Homo sapiens: one gene and its partner. The protein of the gene in region 2 interacts with the protein of the main gene of each other region in a pairwise test. Each region holds a gene or a part of one and is shown on either strand. Other genes may lie near its edges.

Evidence for each region. The genes of interacting proteins can lie anywhere in the genome.
Region 1: the proteins of FGF14 (region 2) and FUNDC2 interact in binary tests that used the Homo sapiens proteins (3 or more experiments, as listed by UniProt).

What each region holds. Positions count from the first base shown.
Region 1 is NC_000023.11:155,029,709-155,033,364, reverse strand, and holds part of FUNDC2 (FUN14 domain-containing protein 2), read right to left. Parts: intron 1-3,656. UniProt on the Homo sapiens protein: Binds directly and specifically 1,2-Diacyl-sn-glycero-3-phospho-(1'-myo-inositol-3',4',5'-bisphosphate) (PIP3) leading to the recruitment of PIP3 to mitochondria and may play a role in the regulation of the platelet activation via AKT/GSK3B/cGMP signaling pathways.
Region 2 is NC_000013.11:101,910,388-101,914,043, forward strand, and holds part of FGF14 (fibroblast growth factor 14), read right to left. Parts: intron 1-3,656. UniProt on the Homo sapiens protein: Probably involved in nervous system development and function.

The DNA.
Region 1 (3,656 bases), on a different chromosome or scaffold from region 2:
TTTATACCTAACTAGATTGAGATATTTAAAGAAACAGACATAAATGTAATAAGAAACCTCCAAATATTCTATTTTAAATAGTAAATTTATTCTAAGTTGCAATTTTGGAAAATCAGACTAAAATCAGCAAATACTAATGTCTATATTACAGGGAAAAACCTAGAAAATCTCAAATTAGTCCTCTAGTTTGTCCTCTCAAATTTAAAAATAACAAAAAAGGCTGGGCGCGGTGGCTCACGCCTGTAATCCCAGCACTTTGGGAGGCCGAGGTGGGCGAATCACCTGAGGTCAGGAGATCGAAACCAGTCTGGCCAAAATGGCAAAACCCCATCTCTACTACAAATACAAAAATTAGCCAGGCGTGGTGGCAGGCACCTGTAATCCCAGCTACTCAGGAGGCTAAGGCAAAAGAATTGCTTGAACCCAGGAAGCAAAGGTTGCAGTGAGCCGAGATAGTGCCGCTGCACTCCAGCCTGGGCAACAGAGCAAGACTCCATCTCAAATAAATAAATAAATCCAAAAAGACCTATAAAAAACTGCCAGTAATGCATCCCAAATGAAACAAATTTGCCCCTTCTCTTCAGAAGTAGCTCAATGCTATTCAGTAATCCACAAATTTTCTAAGTACTACGTGGATCTCCAGTGATAATGAAGATGAGAGGGTAATGTTTAATTGAGCTCTTACTATTTACCAGGCAATGTGCTAAACATTAATCATGTACATCTAATTAATCCACAGAATAAGGTAGGTACTACTTATTAACTCAATTTTATAATTAAGAAATGAAGGCCAGGCATGGTGGCTCACACCTGTAATCCCAGCACTTTGGGAGGCCGGAGGCAGGTGGATCACCTGAGGTCGGGAGTTCAAGACCAACCTGACCAGCATGGAAAAACCCCATCTCTACTAAAAATACAAAATTAGCCGGGGGTGGTGGCACATGCCTGTAATCCTAGCTACTCGGGAGGAGAATCACTTGAACCTGAGGGGCAGAGGTTGCGGTGAGCCAAGATCGCACCACTGCACTCTAGCCTGCGCAACAAGAATGAGACTCCATCTCAAAAAAAAAAAAAAAAAAAAAAAGAAGGCACCAGGCGTGGTGGCTCACGCCTGTAATCCCAACACCTTGGGAGGCCAAGGTGGGCAGATCACCTGAGGTCAGGAGTTTGAGGCCAGCCTGGCCAACATGGTGAAACCTCGTCTCTACTAAAACTACAAAAATTAGCTGGGCATGGTGGCATGCGCCTGTAATCACAGCTACTTGGGAGGCTGAGGCAGGAGAATCACTGGAACCGGGGAGGTGGAGGTGGCAGTGAGCCGAGATCGCGCCACTTCACTCCAGCCTGGGCAACAAGAGTGAAACTCCGTCTCAGAAAAAAAAAAAAAATGAAATGAAGGTTCCAAAGTTAAATGATTTGCCCAAGCATGGAGAAAGACTTAACAAAATGTCAATCCCTTTCTCTGTGGGAAGATAATGTCAGGCTCCCCTACTATACCCAGCCCTGTTTCCCTGGAAACACACCGCACTAAGAAATGTCTGATATGAAATGTCAGCAATGTACTATTCAAAGCTGTTTACTGTAAAATTGACCTCAAATGATCAACTTCATCTGGCATGGAGTGTGTACAATCTTTTCACACATAATGTAACAAACAATAGAAAATGACTACTACCCATGCAAAGGCAAAGCCATATAAAGGAAACAAAATTTGTTTAAATAAAAGAAATAGAAGCAGGCCAGGCACGGTGGCTCACGCCTGTATCCCAGCACTTTGGAAAGCCTGGGGGACGGATCACTTGAAGTCTGGAGTTCAAGACCAGCCTGGCCAACATGGTGAAACCCTGTTTCTACTAAAAATACAAAAATTAGCTGGGCGTGGTGGCATGTGCCTGTAGTCCCAGCTACTCGGGAGGCTGGGACAGGAAAATCACTTGAACGCGGGTAGCGAAGGTTGCAGTGAGCCAAGGATCGCACCACTGCACTCCAGCATGGGTGACACAGCGAGACTCAGTCCCAAAAAGAAAAAAGAAAAAGAAACAGAAACAGAAACAGAACCAGTGATGATCAAGATGCTGAAGTAAGCAAATAACAATGATCAAAAACTGCTCAAAAGATTAAACATATATGTAATTGGAGTTCCAGAAGATTAGAAAGAATGGGATAGAAGTAATATTCAAAGAGGTACACAAAAGTTATTCAGGCCGACAAGAAATGATGCCACATGGAAATATGGAAATGCAGAAAGGAATGAGACACTGGAATGGGCAAATAGGTGGATAAATCTAAATGAATACTTACTGTAAAAAAATAATAATTACAGAAATTTTATACTTTAAAATCAAAGAAAAAAATCAGAATAAAAAGTAGAAAATAGGGGCTGGGCGTGGTGGCTCATGCCTATAATCCAAGCACTTTGGGAGGCCGAGGCGGGTGGATCACCTGAGGTCAGGAGTTCGAGACCAGCCTGGCCAACATGGTAAAACCCCGTCTCTACTAAAAATACCAAAAATTAGCCGGGCATAGTGGCAGGCGCCTGTAATCCCAGCTACTCAGGAGGCTGAGATGGGAGAATTGCTTGAACCTGGGAGGCGGAGGTTGCAGTGAGCCGAGATCAGACCACTGCCCATTTTCCTGGGCAACAAGAGCGAAACTCCATCTCAAAAAAAAAAAAAAAAAAAGTAGAAAATAGGAATAGAAAGGGATTTCTTCAATCTGATATAGGACATCTATGAAAAATATACAACTAACATCATACTTAATGGTGAAATATGGAACACTTTTCTTTCCCTAAAATCTATTCAACTGTTTTTTGTTTTGTTTTGAGACAGGGTCTCACTCTATCACCCACATTGGAGTGCAGTGGCACTATCACAGATTACTGCAACTTCAAACTTCTGGGCTCAAGCAATCCTCCCACCTCAGCCTCCCCAGTAGCTGGACTACAGCTGTGCACCACTATGACCAACTGATTTTTTTTTTTTTTTTTTTTTTTTTGTAGACAGGAGGTCTCACTTTGTTGCCTAGGCTGGTCTGGAACTCCTGGCCCCAAGTGATCCTCCCTCCTTAGCCTCCCAAAGTGCTGGGATTACAAGTGTGAGCCACCTCGCCCAGCACTGTACTGGAGTTCCTAGCCAGTGCAACAAAAGAAAAGAAATAAAAGTCAAAGAGATTAGAAAGGAGGTACAACAATAATTCTGTCTTCATTGGCAGATAATATAACGGTGTATATAGAAAACCCAGAAAAATCTACAAAAAGGTACCAGAAGCAAGGTCACACATTATAAGACCAATATTAAAAAGTCATTTGAATTTTTGTGTATTAGAAATGATGAATTGGAAAACAAAATAATTTTAATTGCAAAAATTATGTTGTAGTAAATTCAATGAAAGATGCACAAGACCTGTTCACTGTAAACTAGAAAACACTGCAAACTACAAAACACTGCCAAGAAATTGAAGATGACCTAAAATAACAGTGATATACTGTTTATGTTTTGCAAGACTCAATATTTTTAAGATGTTCATTCTCTCCATATATTGATCTATATATTCAATACAATCTCAATTAAAAAGTAGGTTTTTTCTTTTTTCTTTTTTTTTTTTTTTTTGAGATAGAGTTTTGCTCTTTTTGCCCAGGCTGGAGTGCAATGACA
Region 2 (3,656 bases):
TTCACTCAACAAATACTTCTGAAGTGTTAGCTGTATGCCAGGCACTGGTGAGACAATGACTTTGAAGTGGCCCTTCCCTATGGTGATGCCGTATGGGTTCCTATCAATCCCAATATCAAAAACCATAAAATCATAGGGAGAAACATACATTCCACAAAATAAATTACAAAATTTAATTTTATGAAAGGAGACATTTTTCTGAATGACAAAGTAGTACCTATCATAAAATGGTGTAGACACTGTGTCTGCATTTCTACGCATGCCTACTGGTATACTGTCACCCCAGTAAACAGCAAATGGTGACATTTTCATGTGATCTGAGTTTCTTAAATTGAATGCTGGACCATTATAGACCAAAACTATGAAATTAGTTGTTTTCTAATGCAAACACTGTAACTGGCTTTAAATTGCATTGACGTCTCTGAAATGGTCTCTTAGAGATTTGGATTCGTGTGTGTGTGTGTGTGTGTGTGTGTGTGTGTGTGTGTGTGTGTGTGTGTGTGTGTTTTAGTTGTTGGGTGCTAAAACAATATTTGAAATATTATATAACATTTGTATTATCTAAATATCATAGTCCTCTTTGGCTAAAGTTTCTCAACATTTGGGGAGACATTAATATAAATTATATCTAAGAAAAATATAGAATTCCATAACTAAGTGGATAAATCATATTTAGAAACCTTTCCTTTTAAATTTCTACCATTTAAAAAAATTTAAATAAATAAAATTTAGAAGACGTAACTTTACACCAAAGAGAAGGGAGGTTCTTGTTGGGTTTGAAAATACTTGTTCTCACAGTAACATCATAGAGAATGGAATTACTAACAAAAATCACAAGTTTGGGGCTAAATGTAAAAGTATTCAAATTCAAAATGTGAAGTGAAGCCCGTAATTGATTACGGTAACTTTGGGACAGAAGGTTTTGTGTATCTGAAATCTTGTTAGGAAAGGTCACAGGATTTCTTCACCAGACAGTTGGCCATAGATTATTAATATATGTAAACTCAACTCAATCTATGGATATAACTAAACCCAAAGCAAACCATCTTCTTTATGTTTAATTACATTATACCTAATCTGTTACACTATTTTACACTTTACTTATTGAACTACTGAGGTATTAAACATTTTCAGAAACCTATAGCAAATATGGACTGTGAAATCATAACAATTAAGCCACAGGAGGAAAATGCATAAACAATGAATGCCTTTTTTGTCTCTAACATTATTTCATTGACCAATCTGGTAATATTCTCATAAGATTCCCTGCTTAGAAATTGCATTTATAGTATGTCCCTTGTTAAAAACAAAACAAAACAAAACTCAACATTTTAATTTAGAAGACCATAATTTGATCTAACCTTAATACAACTAACAAATAATAAAATTATAATTATCAAAAAGTTAGCAACAGGTATTAATATGTAGTAAGACTCCAATGGGTATGGCCTTAGAAAACCAACACCAAAGAGAAAATATCTTCCAAAAAATAAAAAGTGCTTTGAAGAAAAATGTTCCCTTGTTTTAGTTTAGCCAAAACAGCCAAAACAAACAAGCATGTGGTCTTTGTATGAGCACATGGTAATGACACTAAAACAGTAGCGCACAAAAACAGTGTTTTTTTTTTTTTTTGATGACTATTTGCTGTGGATTATTTTCTGAGACGGTAGACACTTGTTTCCTTACATAGCACCTTGTAAGAAGGAAGGACACTTTTCTTAGAATAACTGATGGATTTCACTATCACACTGGAGCAAAGCAGTTTATTTCTATAGGTGTACATGCATTTCTGCTTTTTATATTATGCATTAACTTGAAAACACATTTTAAGTACCTCACTTTCCATTCCTTATACATACTGTAATTTATTTTAGTTAAAATGTTAGTAAGAAGCCCAGGCACCTGCTGATTAAGCATACATGGCACATAATACCATAGCTCTCATGATCACAGCCCCAAAAAAGTAAATCTCAAGAAACAACTGCATTAGCAGCCATGCCAAAGATTTAGAAAGGTTATTATCCTGTGAACAATTATGGTTCTTGTTTGATTGAAAAATTCATAATAAAAACATAACACTTTTGGGGATACAATGTTCATTATACACCATTGTAGTCAGTGGCTACTTTAGTTTTCATTTTTGTTAAGATTCCAAATAATAAAACTATTTGCAAACTGTTGATTTCCTTGTAAATTCCCCTTTCTTTGGCTAAATCAATATATGTAAATATCTTTGTTCATATATTAGTTAAGCTTTAAAATGAGGTTGTTTATGTTCTTGCATTCTTATAAATAACCCACAAATATGTAATCCCTCTAATTCTCTTAAAAAAAGATATAATTATATTTATTTAGGGAAAGTAAAAAAGGTATAAAATTTGAAAAGTATTTTTATGTCTAAAATTATCTAGTTAGATCACTCTGGTTCAAGGATACTTTCTTTTTTAGCTTGGGCCTATTAACCTTCCTTATTTCACTCCAATCCAAGGGCAATGAGGAGAACCCAGTGTATGGCAAACACTCTCAAGATTTGAGAGCCTATGAAGATGCAGAAAACACAGACTTTGCTTCTTCCCTACAATCAGCTGAATATGTATACTTAATTAATTATTATCAGGTATATATAAACAACAACAGTGACGTATGAAATACCACAGGAGAATTATTTTTAATTGTATCCAATAAATGAAGGCTTCTCAGAGGAGATGGCATTTTCTCTCAGCTTTTCAAAATGAGAATAATTTCATAATTTCAACAGGTGAATGTAGAAGTGAGGAGAAGATGCTAGACACACAGTAAAGCACAAACAAAAGGATAAGGATTTGAAAGCATATGACTAATTTGCGGGGTGTGTGGCATTGTATTGTGTTTGAAATCTGTGGAGGTCGGTGGAGGGTAGATGGAGCTGAATCTGGAAAGGTGGGTTGCAGTCATGCTGCCTACCACACCATTAATAGCCATCTTGCAAATTTCTGTCCTTCACAAGAGTAAGTCAACTGGTATAAACATCACTCTTCTATAGGGGTAGGGGTGATGGAGATAGGAAAGAGTGTGGGTGTAGGGCTCCAACTCAATAATCTTTACATTAAATAAATTACTACTTAATAAAGGATTTTTTAAAACCCTACATTTCAAAAATGTGTATTACCCTTCCCCAAAACACAAAATGTGGAGCTATTCTTTATTCTGTTTTCAAGCATATCACACTATATTCTACTTGACAATGTGCTTAAAATTTCTATGCCTCTTTTTTTTCTCCCAATGGGACAATATTTTTTCCACCTCAAGGTCTCTGCACACACATTGCTTTTTCTACCTGCTCTTAAAATCTCTGCATCCTTCTTACCTGTCATCTCTCAACCTGTGGATCCCAGTGTTGCCCACCCTGACTACTTTATCTAATTAGATCCCTCTCCCCACCCCTCTCTCCTCCATAATTCTTTATCCCAGCTCTCTTCATGCTTTATAGGACTTTGAATTTTATTATTTCTTATTAATTTGTTCCTTTCCATAGGCAATGACTCTCTACCCCATGTTTGTGAGCTCCATGATGGCAGGAACTTCAACTCTTCTATTCACTGCTGTATGTATATATAATACCTGCTACAGAGCCTAACAGATTGTAAAGATTCAATAATTGTTATATTATTTTCAGC